Regions from separate parts of the Homo sapiens genome. Here all the other regions are linked to region 2. Evidence: fine-mapped expression QTL. A gene starts in region 2. Each other region holds a variant in brackets. All regions are shown on one strand. Distances are from middle to middle.

Region 1 (5,227 bases), 88 kb before region 2:
TAGACAGCAGGTAAGTAATTGCCCTTCAGTATCATCTCCTCTTGCCTTCAATGCTTGCTGCTCAGAAAGAGCACCATTATCTTATAACCTGATAAGAGGGCATTTCCAGAAAGAAATCAAGAGGCAGGAAGCCTGATTTTCAACAGTTGAGTGGACCCACTGCACTAAAACCGACGGAATTTGCCCTTGACCCATGCCTATGGTAGAAAGTGAATCCAGCCTGTAGCCTGTTAAGTGCATCAGAGGCCCAAGTGCCTGGGAGGTAGCCAGCAGGTGGGCAGTGGATGAGGGGGCTTCAGGGCCTTCTCCAGAAAGCTTTCTCATCATAAATTCACTTCCTCCCTTTACTTTAAATTACTCTGGCCTTCTCATATATAGTAACCACAAAATGCTCATACTAAAGTGGAAAATGGGAGAATAAAAATCAGGCAACAAAACTATATACACAAGGCTGAGTGTGGTGGCTCAAGCCCGTAGTTCCAGTGCTTTGGGAGGCCAAGGTGGGAGGATCGCTGAGGCCAGGAGTTTGAGACCAGCCTGGGCAACATAGCGAGACTCTGTCCCTACAAACAAATTTTAAAAATTAGCCAAGCGTGGTGGTGTGCACTTGTAATCCTAGCTACTTGGGAGGCCAAGGAGGAAGGATCACTTGAGCCTGGGGATTCTAAGTTTTTTTGCTTGAACCCAGGAGTTCTAAGTTTTAGTAAGCTATCATTGCCCTGCTGCACTCTAGCCTGGGTGACAGAACAAGACCCTGTCTCTGAAAAAAAAGAAGAAGGAAAAGAAAACTATATACACAGGCTTATTTATTTTCATAAGATAATTCACAAAATAGTGCTAAAGGAAAAGGCATGTGATATCTTTGATGTAATTTTGTCTTTATAGATGCAAATATTAATGATGTATACATACAGACCTAGATCTATACATGTACTCACAAAGAAAGATGCTGGAAGGCAAACCAGTAAAATTTACCATTATTTCTTTCTTAGGATTAGATGAATGGTATTTTTTAAGTTTTCTGTACTGAACATGGGTTATTTTTGATACTAGGAAAAAATGTTACTTGCAACAATAAATATAATTTTAAAATCTACCATATCAATGAGTATATGTCTTTTTAAAAAGACCAGAATTAGTTGTACAACAATGTGAATATACTTCACACTGCTGAATTGTACACTTAAATATGGTTAAGATGGTAAATTTTATATGATGCCTATTTTACCACAATTAATTTTTTTTAAAAAAAGATAAAGAGATTATGGTAAAGCACTCTTCCATGAATAAAGTTACAACATTGTTTTAAAGCCCAGAAATAATTACTTTAAAATGTCAAGTGATTGCTTTTCTTTTTTTATTTTAAAATTTTGTTCTCCCTTATCATTATCCACAAATGGTTTCTTTTCTTTTTCCTGGGGGGTAGATTGCTGCTAGTAGTTATTTTCATCTTTATTTATTAGATTTATTTATTTCTAAAATATTGTATAGGGTAATTATTACCCTTAAATTAAAAAAAATTCATTCCATGATTTCAAAAATACTAAATAAAAACAGTGACTGTTTGGTAATTTGTCCTTGTTGACATGTCGTTTTGTATTTATTTTTATGTTGTTTCATGTGCAGATTTTATTTTCTCAAGGGGACTGCAGATTCCTAGTGGATCTTCTAGTGGTTTTGTTGTCTTCAGAGAGTTTTATACACATTAAAATTTGCATGTTCATCCACGACACTCACATCCACCCAAATAAAAGAGAAAGAAGCCTGCTGTAACCAAATTTTGACTGCTACCATTGTATTTCTTCTGCAAATATAAATATCTGATCATAAGGCTGTGTGAAACATTTTAAGTTGGTCAAAAACGAGACAGACATGTGAGTCACTCATTGTTGTCATTGTGCTCAGTATAGGTCTGAAAGCTCATCTATGTTAATTTTGACCAGAGTTCCCATCCTTTGTCTCTAGGCACAGGCAACACACTGAGCTGGCATCCTTGCTGTGGGATGAACAAAGCAATTTATCGTTATTGGCAAGTTGGCCAATTTCATCATTAATCGATCATTCACTTTTTCCAGTGTGGTCCTGAGGCATTCCTCTAGGGAGCAGAGGAATTAAGCAGGATTTGCTCGGTCAGGCATGGCAGCAACAGACTGTGAAAGAAATGTTCAAGGTATTTCGTCAATAACAGAAGGTCACTTGCCCTTGCAACAGTATGCATTTCAAACCAAAGGAAAATCAGGCCTAGGATTTTGGCTTCTCAGCGAGTTTTTATTATGAGCACCACCCCCTTCCTAGGCTGCAAATGCTTCTCCCAGAGGGATGCAGCGTAATTTTCACACTAGAGGAAAGCAGACCGCAGGAACACTGTGTCCCGACTGCTTCACTGCTTTGCACTCGCTGCAGACTCAGTCCTCAACCACTGCTTCATGTGAGGGCAACGGGGTGGAAAGGAGACGACCTGGCATGCCCGGTGTGGAA[T/A]GCCAAGGACCTCTGTAAGATGCACACAATAGCTCTTTGCTCCTTTTGTATTGCCACAGCCCCCTCTGAAGAGTATTGATAAGGGGCCAGAACAGACAAGAAGTCAAGGACTGTGAACTAACAGGACTTTGAACCCCAGTTGCTTTTAAATTGACAAATAAGTGAACCTTTTAGCCGAAGATGAGGAAGAAATGAGATTTTGATCCACTTTGAGTATCTAATGCCTCTCTTAGAAGAAGAAAAGGCCCTTCTGAATGGTAACATTCCCCAGTGAGAGCCTATCAGTCGTCATCGTTCCGGGCAAAAGGCCCCGTGGAGACAGACACCACATGGCCCCCTGATCATCATCACACACTGCAGCAGAGAAGGATATGTCTGGATCTCCTTGTGTATGTGGTCAGATCACTACTTAACTTTGCATCCTGTGTACTAATCAATCATAATGCATATTAAATATAAGTATGTTTTCTAGCCACTCTGATATAGGGCTTACGACAAAAGAAAAAAAAAGAGTATTAATGCTCCTTTCAACTCCTTCCCCTAAAATAAACACAAAACAACAACAAAAATTGTAGTATCACTCTTTTTCACTTTTAATTCTTTATATCATCAACCCAAATTGATTGTCAGTATCTTAAGGATAGGAATCAAGTCTTCTACATAGTTTGCGTCACCCACAGTACCTAATCCAGTGCTGTGTCCTTCAGGCTCAATGCACGCTTACGAAGTCCATGGAAACTGCTTACGAAGTCCATGGAAACTAGCAGGTGCATAGCATGTTCTGGTCTTCACAGTGCCCTTCCATCTGGGAACATCTCATTGCACTCGTACCACTGAATTGAGTAGGAAATTAATACCCCAAAGTGTTGACTTCTCCTGTATCTTAGAGAAAGTGTGACTGAGATGAAATCAGAACTCAGGTTCCACTTTTGCTCATATTTTATTGTGTCCTGACATTACGAGTTTCCCACTTTGAAAATACAAAAATGGTAGGAAGGTAGTGCTTGGAGACTGAAGTCAGAAATTATCTCCAGATAGGGCCGCAGTTGGTTCTGAAACTATTCAAGTCATCTTGTCAAAATTAAAATCTGGGGGGAAATGTGTGCATGTGTTTGAAATGACTTATCTGAATCATTGATTTTGAAGAGTTCAGACCTTCAGAATACGACATACATCAAGAACATGACCTACATAGATCATTCTGGGATGCCCAGTGAAAAGTGGACTATTGAGAATCTTAGCAGACGTTTTGAGCACAGTGAAACAAGCGTGCCCAAAATGGGAGGATCTCATTTACATGTTACACCTGACTCAGTGTGGTTCTTGCATGAATTTCCCACATTAACTAATTTCATGGAAAGTTGACAAGTTTCCTCTTTACCAATCCTGCTAGGAACATCTAAAGTACAAAACGAGCACTCTACCATAAAGAGATACTGATGAAAAGATTTCATCAGACATTTCATTAAAGCATAACTCTCAGCTAGGCCTGGTGGTGCACACCTGTAATCCAGCACTTTGGAAGGCCAAGGCAGCTAGATTGCTTGAACCCACAAGTTCAAGACCAGCCTGTGCAACATGTCAAAACTCTGTCTCTACAAAAAATATAAAAATTAGCCACAGGACATGGTGGTGGCCATGCCTGTGGTCCCAGCAACTCAGGAGGCTGAGGTAGGAGGATCACTTGAACTGGGAGGTTGAGGCTGCAGTGAGCTGAGATTGTGCCACTGCACTCCAGCGTGAACAACAGAGTGAGACCCTGTCTCAAAAAAAAAAAAAATAGTGTTACCCTGTAATTTCTGGAGAGAATGATGTTTCACAAGGGAAATGAGAAGTCTCTCTTCTTGACCAAACTCCAGCCCTCCAGAATAGATTTGCCCATGATCTGAGCCCTCTTATTGACGAGGCTCAACCTTGGCTGATAAAGACTATGATCATGCACTAACACAGTTTCTGACAGCTCAAGGACATAACCCTGGGATGACCCTAGTCCCCTTGAAAGTGCCAGCTTGAGAAAACTTAAGGCTGCTGAAAGAATTCACTGTTGGTTCCAGCTAACACATGAAGATAAAGTGCTGTCTTCCAGTTTCTGTGGGAAGGTGGGAGCTTAACTTCATTCAGCACAAGTTAGCAAAAAAACAGATGGGTTTTTCATGGACCAACCCTTCCTTCCCACTTTTTGTATTTATCCATTTCCCTGATTGTACTAAGCCCTTGCTCACCCCTCTCCCTTTCCCTCATTCTACCTTTAAGACTCCCAATTGCCAATGTACAAATTGAAGTTCAGTTCAGTTCATGCTGTACTTTTTCCCTATCACGATAGTTATTACTGATTAAAATCTGTCCTTACCACTTTAACCAGTGCCCAGCTTTGCTTATCTTTGACAGGAGAGACCCTTCTGCCTTGCTTACTACCATATTTCCAGTATTTGTGCAATCTTTGTTCACTGTGTCTGCTTATTGAACAAATACATATAGTGAGTGTTCACTGTGGAGAATTCATTGACAGCTCAGTCCACAAAACTCATTCACCTTGTCCACAACCACTGATGTTTTACCCCTTTCCCTAGTTGGCACATGGGGTTCACTACCTTGGAATTCCACTTCTCATCTTTCCCAGAATGTCACAGCAGGGACTGAGTTCTGCCCATGACCTGACCCACTGGACACATCTTGACTAGCCTAACAATTCCTTCCTCCCCTAGAACACATATTTTTCTGTGATGTCCATACAGTCCCAAGCATTGCC
Region 2 (5,227 bases):
GGGCCCCCAACTACAAGCTCTGTGCTTTCAGGGTCTTCTGTCTTTGTACGCAGTTCTCTCTGCCCAGAAAACTCTTCTCCCCACCTCCACTTGCAAAATCCTGTCCATCCTTCAGGCTCAGCTCTAACGTTACTTGAATGTGATGCCTGTCTTGACTGTTTAGCAGGCTAAAGCTGTCACTCCCTGCCTGTACTACCACAGAACATTTTGTACAAGCCACCATAACTGCACTTATCCCAGTGAACTGTGTTTGTTTGCAGCAAAACACTGTGGTTAGGAACATGGACCTTGAATTCAGACTGACTTGGAAACCAAATTCTGCAATTTATTGTGTGGCCTTGAAAATCATTCCTTCTGGGTCTTAGTTTCCTTCCTAATTTTGGCAATGAGGGGCATAATACCTAACTCATTAGCCTGTTGTAAAGATAAACCAGATAATGTGTTTAATGATGGAGCACGATGCCTGGTCAACAATACTCAATAACTAATGGTATTATCAAACTTGAATGTGCCAAATGCAAGGACCTAGGACTACATTTTGTCCACTTTTTTTTTTTTTTTTTTTTTGAGACAGAGTTTCGCTCTTCTTGCGCAGGCTGGAGTGCAATGGTGCGATTTTGGCTCACAGCAACCTCCACCTCCCAGGTTCAAGCGATTCTCCTGCCTCAGCCTCCCGAGTAGCTGGGATTACAGGCATGCACCACCACACCTGGCTAATTTTGTATTTTTAGTAGAGATGAGGTTTCTCCATGTTGGTCAGGCTGGTCTTGAACTCTCGACCTCAGGTGATCCGCCTACCTCGGCCTCCCAAAGTGCTGGGATTACAGGCGTGAGCCACCACAGCCGGCTGATGTCCATCTTTCTATCCCAGTTGCTGGCCATAGTCAGTCGAAGTTTCTTAAAATGCATAAATGAAAATACTATCATAACTTCCTTTACTTGAAGACGGGTTAGAGGCTTATTTAGTTTGCCACTAATAAGGGCTTTTTTGTTTTCTTTTGAGACAAGGTCCTGCTCTGTCACCCAGGCTGGAGTATAATGGAGTCACCACAGCTCACTGCAACCTTGACTTCCCAGGCTCAAGCTATCCTCCCACCTCAGCACCACTTGAGAGGTGGTTAATTTCCCATAGAGACGGGGTCTTTATGTTGCCCAAGCTGGTCTCCAACTCTCCAATTCCTGGGCTCAAATGATCCTCCCACCTTGGCCTCCCACAGTGTTGGGATTACAGGGCTGAGCCACCACACCCAGCTGATAAAGACATTTTACTGAAATGCCAAAAATTCCACTGATTTTACATCTCCAATCATATTAATCCTTTCCCTTTGCTCAACCAGTCCTGAACTTACACAGGTAACTGTTTGAGGTCCTATTTTGAAGTAGTGGTTTCTGCTAAATGATCTCGTCACAATTTTAGTCTTTACTGCATGTACATCAATTCCAGTCTTTACATAATCATGTGGAACACGGATTATATTTTCCTTTCTCATATGAAAAGTAATAGCGTGCATGTGTATAGGATTTACGTTTCAGGCTTTGTGGGCTTTAAATCCTTTGACTCCTAACCCAAGTGACTTTTCTAAGATCACAGTTCGTGGGTGGTCAAGCATATTAAAACTACTGCAAACTCTAGCGCAGTGTCCTGGACACTGGCCACAGCATCGCATTATCCCCCAACAGCCTAAATTCCTTGAAGGCAAGGTTCTCTCTGGCTTCCTCTGCAACGTTCGCAGCATGCCTCAGAGACTCGGTGAGCTGGGCCGGCCAATGCATTTCCTCTTCCGTCCATGTAATTCCACTAGAGGAGCAGAGGGCAAACTACGTTCCCATTAAAGCCACAAGGTTTAAAAACCTCTAACCTTGGAAAAGCACACTTCAACCCTCTGCACACCAAACTTCTCTACTGTGGTTTCCCCTCTGCCGCTTTCTCCTTGGCGTTCCCCGATCACTGCCTCTAGGGTCTTTACAAGGGACAGCGAACGTAAGGTTTCGGAGCTGGCTTCGCCCCCTTCTATTTACCGGGGGCTGGTCATCCTTCGGGCCAGGCTGACTGTCTAGGGGTGGCCCTCGGATACCTGGTCCCCGCAGGTGACCCCCCTCCCTCCCACCGAGGAGGAGGGCGCGTCCCGCTCGCTCCGTGGAGACGCCGCGGAGGCGCACACGCCTCACGCCTCCTCGCAGAAGCCACAGGGGCTGCGGCTCTTTGTCGCGGCCACACCGGAAACGGCCCGGAGCGCGCGCGGGGCGGCCGCCGAGGGTCGCGGCGCTAGGCGGGGCCGCCGGGCCCGTCCCCCTCCCCGCGGGGGCGCGCGAGGCCCGGGCGGGGCCGCCCTCCCTTCCGGGGAGCGGGGAGCCGCCGCCGCGTCCGCCGGGCGGCTCCCACCCCGCCCCCCGCAGCTCTAGGTGACGCGTCTCCAATAACAGCTCGCCGGGAGCCGCAGCTCGGGCACAGCCGGCGGCCGCGCCCCGCCGCCACCATGAGGGCCGAGGGCCTCGGCGGCCTGGAGCGCTTCTGCAGCCCGGGCAAAGGCCGGGGGCTGCGGGCTCTGCAGCCCTTCCAGGTGGGGGACTTGCTGTTCTCCTGCCCGGCCTATGCCTACGTGCTCACGGTCAACGAGCGGGGCAACCACTGCGAGTACTGCTTCACCAGGTAGGGCGGCGGCGGCGGCGGCGGCGGGCGGGAGCCGGGGGCGCCGAGCGGGAGGCTTGGACGGCGGCGCCAGGAAGTGCGTGCGGCTCGCGGGGTCCTAGCGCCGGCCCTTGGGGCGGGGTGGGGGGCGGGGAGGGGAGGAGGCCCCGCGCTGCGGCCCCGCGCTGCAGCCCCACGCCAGGCGCCACGTGCGAGAGGAAACAGGACCGGTGCCCCGCTGCACGCCCTGCACTGCACGTTTTCAGAGTTGCTCACGCTGGATGCGCAAACCCGGGCGTGCAGGTTCCTGCCCTCAAATGTGGGCTCCGAGCCAGGCTTGTTCCAAGCCTGGGCACTCACTGCCCTCCCGGTGCATTGGCAGCGGAGCCCCAAATTTGGGCAGCCACGGGCTGTCACCTTTAACTTATGCTTCCTGCGGTGTGTTCTGTTACCCACAGTCCAGCCCTGCCTCAGATTGGCCGTTTCTTCCAAGGAATTTAATGACTTAGTATATGTCTTGTAAAGTACGCTTACATGTTAAAGTACGCTTACATGGGTGTTTGGAGGGACGCCAGTGGGCACTGACCACACCCCCTGGATTCTGAGGTGCTGCGACGATGAGTTGCAGTGTCCAGTTTCGGTTTGGGATTAGGAAAACATGGTCGCAGGAAGGGATTGGGCAAGATGTGTGGTTGCTAATGGTATTTAATTGTAAGATACCATATGTATATATGTGTCTGTGTTTGTATATATGATGCATATACATTTGCACACACCAACACATAATTATATCCTCAACTCTTATGAGAGTTTCAGAGCTTAAAGGCACATTAGAAATCACCAATTCAGTCTTGTCTTTCACTTAATGGATGAGAAAACTAAAGCCCAGAGAGAAAGTGGAGTTACCTTTATCCATTCACACCAGTAGTGAAGGGAGTGAAATCTGGCCTTATTCACTTCTGCCTATTTCTCACTGGTTAGGTGCTCAGTAAATTTACTAAGGCAGGAGGCATGGCATTGGGGTTAAGTTTATATCAGGCCTTCCAGTACTCTGAGTAGAGACCATGATTTGCTTTCTTTGAACCTCAGTTTCTTCATCTTTGAAATGGAGATTCCTGGGCTGGATTAAGCTGACCTGCGGTCCTGCAGGGACCTTTTGAGTACAGGTCTCAAGTCCAGCATACTCAATCTCTCAGACCTGTGTGCCTCATTCTACAATAAGACGTAGCAAAAGAAGGGACAAAGGCTAAATATTGTAGTAATCTTGCCCAGACTCCCTGCCAGAACTGTCTTCCGCTTGGGGGGACCTGGAAAGGAACTAGACACGGAATCATGCCGTGGGCAGCTTAAGGGCTGTATGTGATGTGGCTCTTTGAATTGGTGAGCCAAGAGCTAAAGGGTCATGGCACCACTTTGCAACGTTTGAGTGAAGTGAGCATTGGGTTTTCCCAAAGTTAAAAAGGCTGCTGTGACTGGTCCCTTGATCTTCTGAGCCTTGCTGTGGCTCGGAGTCTGCAGCAGCGTGGGTGTCTGCAGTGGCAGGAGCAAAGCAGGTCAGGCAGCACAGAAGGAGCCTCCATCAGGGATCCTGGCAATTCCTGGAAGCCATCGCCTAAGACCATGGATGCCAGGCACATAGTAGGTGCTTACTTTATATGGGTAGTTGCCAGCCCTGGCCCCCAGTGAATGAAAGATCAAATCCCTCTGGATTTAGAAGGGATGAGAAGAACTGAGAGATGCTTCTCTTTAGCTTTAAGTCTCCTAATTGTATCTACTACGCATACCCCCAACCTTAGAACATTAATGGATGGTCAGATGCAAGTTCACAAAGCATTCAGCCTGGATTATTCTGCCATATGTGACAGTTTGCTGCCTCTTTTGTTGTTAAATTTTTCTGATTGACATTTATTAGTGTTACTCACTGTTGCCTTGGGTCCCTCACCAGGGCTGCAACTTGCAATGGGGTGTTATTACAACTTGCAAACCACTTCTCTGTTTGATTTCCCTGACCTTATGTCAATACCCGTAGTTTATTTCCTCTCTCTCCCCAAAGAATTATTTGAAGTCAATTAAAATAATACAAAAGAAATAATATCCATGATACTTATGCAATTAGAAATATCCTTGTACCCTACTTCATGATTTCTATTAAATCTGAATCATTTACTATTAGTGGTTAGGTCATCTGATAGATTCAGCATCAGTTCCTCTGTCAGCAATTTGTATATGACTTAGGACAAATCAGTCTGTCCAGATGTATGAGGGGAACGTGTATTTTCCTCCATAGGGCCTCAAAGTATAGGAGTAGAATTCTGGAAATGTTCATACTTACAGGTCAAAATCTGCTGCCTGCCCCAGCTCCACACACCCAAAAGAAAGCTACCCCTTATCCTTTCTTTTGCCAGAAGTTTAACATAAACAATACTGCTTAAGATAAATGAATGACCCAAGAATTTCCATGTCATACTAATTGTATCAGGATCTAACTTTTTTTGAAGAAAAGAAAAGTGATTTCTTTAGGTAGGAATAAGTATATGCTATAAATTGAGAAATAATGGAAAATGTCTTAAGTCTCAACAGAATGGGATTCTTACGGTC
Region 3 (5,227 bases), 93 kb after region 2:
GTTACAGCAGAAAAACTATGTTTGGCTTGGCAAAAGAAGAAAAAGATATTTTTTCTTCCCCCAAAGAACAGAGGACTCTCCAGGAACAACGGCTTCTGGTCTCTTTTCAGCTGATAAGGATGATGGCATGTGGAGCTGGGTGCCTGGAGTTGGGCGTCTATGTCGATTTGCCCAGAGCAGCCTGAGACTCCCAAATTCCAGTGGAAAGATCACTGTTTTCGTTTGGCACAGAAAGTCAGCAGGTTGAACTAAAGTCTGTCATTTTTGGTTTTCTGTTGTTTTATTTTCAGTTTAGTGCATTACAATCCAAGGAAAAGAGTTAAAAGCCAGATGAAAATGGGAGGAGGAAAAGCTACAACAATCAATTATCTCCAGGGGAAAAAATATCTATCTGGAAGTAAGAAAACAGATGTATACCAAAGAGAAAAGCATGTGCAGAGAAACAGCACTGCAGGAAGAAGGATAGGGTAGCAAAGTTGACAGCACAAAGCCCATCTTCTGGCCACCCTTTCCCCTGGGGAAAAAGGATGTGGAGTAGGCCATTCCCCTTACCTCCTCTGCAGTGACCATGGCAATCACATTCACTCCCTGCTCCCACACCATCTGCCAGAAGTCGTGGCACGTGTGTGGCAGGGGCCCCTGGGTGGCTATGTAGTGCCATTCTGCCCCGCCAACCACCACCTAAAAACCAAGAAAAGTATCGGTAAATAAACCCCAAGTCCGGACAACATTACCTGCTGATCACCTGTCCATCTGTATCCACCTTAAAACCTTGGATATATTTTTGGGGCCGAATGAATTAGTTCAATGAACAAAAACCCTGAGACTACAGAGGCTAGTGTAGTGACACATTCTCACATGAAAATACTTTTTGCCACTCAAGCCTATTAAATATTTATCTAATCCTGGTTTTTGAGACTGAGTCTTGCTCTGCTGCTTAGGCGGGAGTACAGTGGCACGATCTTGGCTCACTGCAACCTCCGCCTCCTGGGTTCAAGCAATTCTCCCGTCTCAGAATCCCAAGGAGCTGGGATTACAGGCACTCGCCATCATGCCCGGCTAATTTTTGTATTTTTGTAGAGATGGCGTTTCACCACATTGGCCAGGCTGGTCTTGAACTCCTGACTTCAGGTGATACGCCCATCTCAGCCTCCCAAAGTGCTGGGATTACAGGCCTGAGCCACCAGGCTTGGCCTTTACCTGATCTTTGTTTGCAACTCACAGTATATGCAAACTAGTGCCTATTAAAAACCATACACATACACACATGTATAGATGCATATATATGAACATGTATAACTTAGGATTTACTTGTTACAGAAATAATAGTTACTGCTTACTATGTGCAATGTACTCTAACACTTTCCATTCTTTTCTCTTTTCTAGTCGATTTCATTGAAACACACACACACACACACACACACACACACACACACACACACACACACACCTGGTCATGACCACTAAACTGATTTCACATTCTACCACTGTGTTGTAATCCAGTTTGAAAAGCAGTGCTTCATGGCATCCAATTAAACAATAAAAAAAAAAAAAAAGATCATGAAACAACATCCCTTTTGGAGCACTATCTTTCTCCTGTGGATCTGAGATGAAGTGTATCATAAACCTCTGCTGTCACTGCTGCTCTGTGGTGCCATGCACGGCAGAGATGCTACGAATGCTCTTGTCAACAGCATATATTTTATCAATAGCTTCACCTTGGTAGTACCACAGCATCCAACTGAACTACAGTCATGACATGACTTTGGATAATAAAATTATTACCCCTGCAGCTCAGGGTGATCAGGGGAAGATAATTCTACAGCTATAAATACTAGCTGCTGAGAACCATAAATAAGAAGTTGTACCCAAAGTGTTAAAGGTCATGCTGTCAAGGTGAAATGGTGGCCTTTGGAGGAATTCTTTCTGTTCTCCCTTCCAGGTCTGTGCCTTGATATTGCAAAGTCAGGTCCCTTCTACATCTATACAATGCAGATCTCTGGAGAGTTCAAAAAGTAATGAAGTAATCATTGTTTGAAACTTTTTCCCCTCATTTATTTGATAAAACTGTATGCTAACTTGGTTCAAACAAAAACAATGTAAGTTATTGTCTCATTACACAAGGCATGTTTAGGTCAAAGCTGGCAAGAAAAATCCATTTTCCAAATACTGGTGGGAGATAACATTCATATATTTGCTGGCTAGGAGTTTGGTTTATCCGTGGAATTGTGATTTTAAACATTAGCCTCTCTGGCACCCAACGTATAGGAAACATAAATACTTCCAGAGAATGCTGCTGCTGCCTGGGGCCTTTCAGTATATTCCAAGTATTGACAGAAGGGTATTAAAAACTGCATTAAAAACACAACAAGCAGTGCTGCTGAGGTAGATTTCACACATGTGATTCCACCTCTGGAGCAAATAAATCTCTGTTCT[G/T]TGTTAACGGCTGCTTGGAACCCAGGGGGGAAAACACTGGCAAAATATACTCCTCTATTCCAAAACACAGGGACAAGTTCTTGCAAGGTCCACGGGTCTATGAAATGCACCCATGTCTAACCCGGATCCACAGGATGAAATGTGGGCCACAGAGAATACCAAGGAAGGGAATGCTCCTCGGTTAACAATGCCCGATGGGCACAGTTTATACAAAGTGACAGCTTTTTTCAGAGAGCAGATGGAAAATAGTGGAAGAGATCTGGCCAAAAGAAGAAGATAATATAATATTTCTATGTAAGATTTTCATAGACACTCTATCAGGAAGCAGCTGTGTGATCTGCATCTTTGTTGGAATACATTACTTTGGTCATTGTTTCATAATGTAAACTAAGCCCATGAAACCCACCACTGACAGTTTATTTAAGAGTTTCCTAGAGTTCACTTTTTACTTCTCACTCTCAAAAATCCAAGTTAAAATTAGTAATATGATCTATGATAGTTACTCTTTTATATTTCTTTTGACAGTACTTTCTAATTATTAAAAACTATGGTTATCTGTGTATATTAATAAAAATAGTATATACCCAACCATACTATACTTTTCCCATTCTGTATCAAAACTAGTTATAATTGATACACAAGCTAGATATCTAACTCGCCTTTTACAGGCTTAAAAAAACCTGTTAATAATTCTGCTACAGTTGAAAAGTCCAATGAGGAAAGTAAGTAATTCTAGACAAGGCCGAAAACAGGTTTCTAAGGCTATTGATCACAGTGGACTATCAATTGAACCTTGTGTTATTTAACAACACCTATAACACTGGCTTTAACATTAATAGATGAACAAATCTCCCACTTCAGAGTTCAGAGCAAATGGTGACATTCTAAATAAGTGTCCCTCTGTTAACAGGGACTCTGAGGAAGGTAAGCTATTTAAGAAACATTTAACTACAGGTACACATGTATCCATAAGTCAAAGTTTTAACTGCAGAAGTGCTAAACTATGTAATACTGACATATAAAGGTTTGAAGTATTTGAAATAACAACAAAAATTTAGTAACACAAATTCATTGACTAATGTGGCAAATCTTTCAAGATTCAATATTAACCACACTTTTATAGTGTAGGTGAAAATTACTCCACTCTTCTAAATACCATGCAATAATAGGACTCGCGCTTTTATAAAATGCATAACCTGCAGTATTATAAGGGAAAAACAATAGTTTCTATTGTTATTGAACATGACACTTTTATGTCAGTAACGCAATACCTGTAACTTCCAAAGTCTCCAGCACCTGCTAATTACAAACTGAAAAGGATAATCTGAGTATAGAGAGAGTTACAGCCCACAGAGAGAAGGAAAAGTTAAAGCCTCTGTAATGAGCGAGCTTCAGAAATCGCTGACCTGAAGTTCTTCCTGAGGCTGCTAGACTTCCTTCTCTCTGCAGTGATAGACATGCCCTTCCACTTGACTAAGAAAAGCACAGGAGTTCAAAAACAATCCCTGAGGGTCTGGGGACAAGCCAAAAGGTACAACTGCAGCCCACACATTTTCTTCTCCCCGCATTTTTCCCTTTAACCCAGCCATCTTTACCAAACCTTCTAACAGGCTTGCCTTCTTACCTTGATGTGGGAGGCATTAATGTATCCTGTGTTATTTTCTTTGGTTGGTATCAGCTCTACTCGATTCTCCTCATAGGGGACAACTTCACGGATTCGGCTGCGCTCGGCGTTTTCTGGCAGAGCTGCTGTGCTGAAAATGCCATTCGCCTTTTTCTTTGGAATTTGCTCATATTCTGTGAACACCATTCCCTCTTCTAGTTTCTTCTTCAGGGTTCTGAACTGCAACAGAAATTGATCTTCAGCTCTCTAAATTATCTGATCCAAAAACTCAATGAAACAACCAAATTTCTTTAAATATTTAGCGATTGTGTTAAAAGAGATTTCAAGTTCTACAATCAATGCTTGGTTTGTCTCATTATCAACCATATTGATATTTTCCCTTGTCTAATAACCATTTTCCTTCTTACTCATATTATAAGTAGAACAAATCTGCAAGAACTAGCAAGAGTTGAAATTCAAAAATCAATATTTTTGCTATTAACAACTCTGTTTAAAGTCCTAATGATAAAGAGACTGTTAATCTTAATTATCCAAACATCCTTTCCTCCACCTATATAGCTGTTTTTAAGATGATACTGGTCCACAGTTCTATAGCTCTGAGGATTAAATCACTCTCTTTTTTCCTCCTTCCTGGCCAAACTACTAATTCCAATAACATGGTATTAATTGGGTTAAATGATTTCTCTGAAGTCCCTTCTGGCTTTAAAAACATTCTAATTCTGGATACATACTGGCAGAAATCGAACACCCTGGTGTTATTAGTACTTTATTACATTTATACAACCTGTTTCTTAACCTTCTGACAGCAATTTCGGGAACTAAGGATCCACCTTTCTTCGCTTCTGAAACACTACCATGCAGCTGCTTTCTGCTTTTCAAAACCCATGTTGTCACAATGCATTATCCAGACAATTATAAATCAGCCTCATTTTATGGTCATACGAGGGGACAGCATTTTTAAAGAACTCTATAAATGCTTGGATACAAGGTCATGTCTTTTGCGGGAGACATGGATGGAGCTGGAGGCTATTATCCTTAGCAAACTAAAGCAGAAACAGAAAACCAAATACTGCATGTTGTCACTTATAAGTGGGAGCTAAATGATAAGAATTTATGAACACAAAGAAGGAAACAACAGACACTGGGGCCTACCTGAGGGTGGAGGGT

Direction of the effects. Positions count from the first base shown, and alleles are read on the strand shown. Sizes are in standard deviations (SD) of each study's normalised expression. Not every link is listed here.
For the expression in thyroid of the gene that starts at base 2,382 in region 2, T is the high allele of the variant in region 1 and A is the other (small effect, 0.21 SD a copy in GTEx).

What was found. PIP is the estimated chance that this variant, and not a neighbour inherited with it, causes the effect. A credible set is the group of variants that fine-mapping cannot tell apart.
Region 1: its variant is the best candidate, but not a certain one, in a credible set for the expression of SMYD2 in thyroid (GTEx, PIP 0.78).
Region 3: its variant is the best candidate, but not a certain one, in a credible set for the expression of SMYD2 in tibial nerve (GTEx, PIP 0.87).

The regions. Positions count from the first base shown.
Region 1 is chr1:214,191,096-214,196,322 of GRCh38, forward strand. No RefSeq gene overlaps it. Among named protein-coding and RNA genes, the nearest start is that of LINC02775, 82 kb to the left of the region's middle. RefSeq lists an enhancer at 1,728-2,294. The variant T/A (reference allele first, on the strand shown) is at 2,479.
Region 2 is chr1:214,278,778-214,284,004 of GRCh38, forward strand. SMYD2 (SET and MYND domain containing 2) reads left to right here and starts at 2,382. Exons shown (of 12, transcript NM_020197.3): 1 at 2,382-2,650. The coding sequence starts at 2,478. It overlaps LOC124904509 (a long non-coding RNA gene), which reads right to left and starts at 2,259. Exons shown (of 2, transcript XR_007066876.1): 1 at 1-2,259. RefSeq lists an enhancer at 1,337-1,902 and silencers at 2,182-2,471, 2,492-2,611, 2,642-2,801.
Region 3 is chr1:214,372,159-214,377,385 of GRCh38, forward strand. PTPN14 (protein tyrosine phosphatase non-receptor type 14) reads right to left here. Exons shown (of 19, transcript NM_005401.5): 15 at 4,061-4,279; 16 at 553-681. Among named protein-coding and RNA genes, the nearest start is that of SMYD2, 94 kb to the left of the region's middle. The variant G/T (reference allele first, on the strand shown) is at 2,437.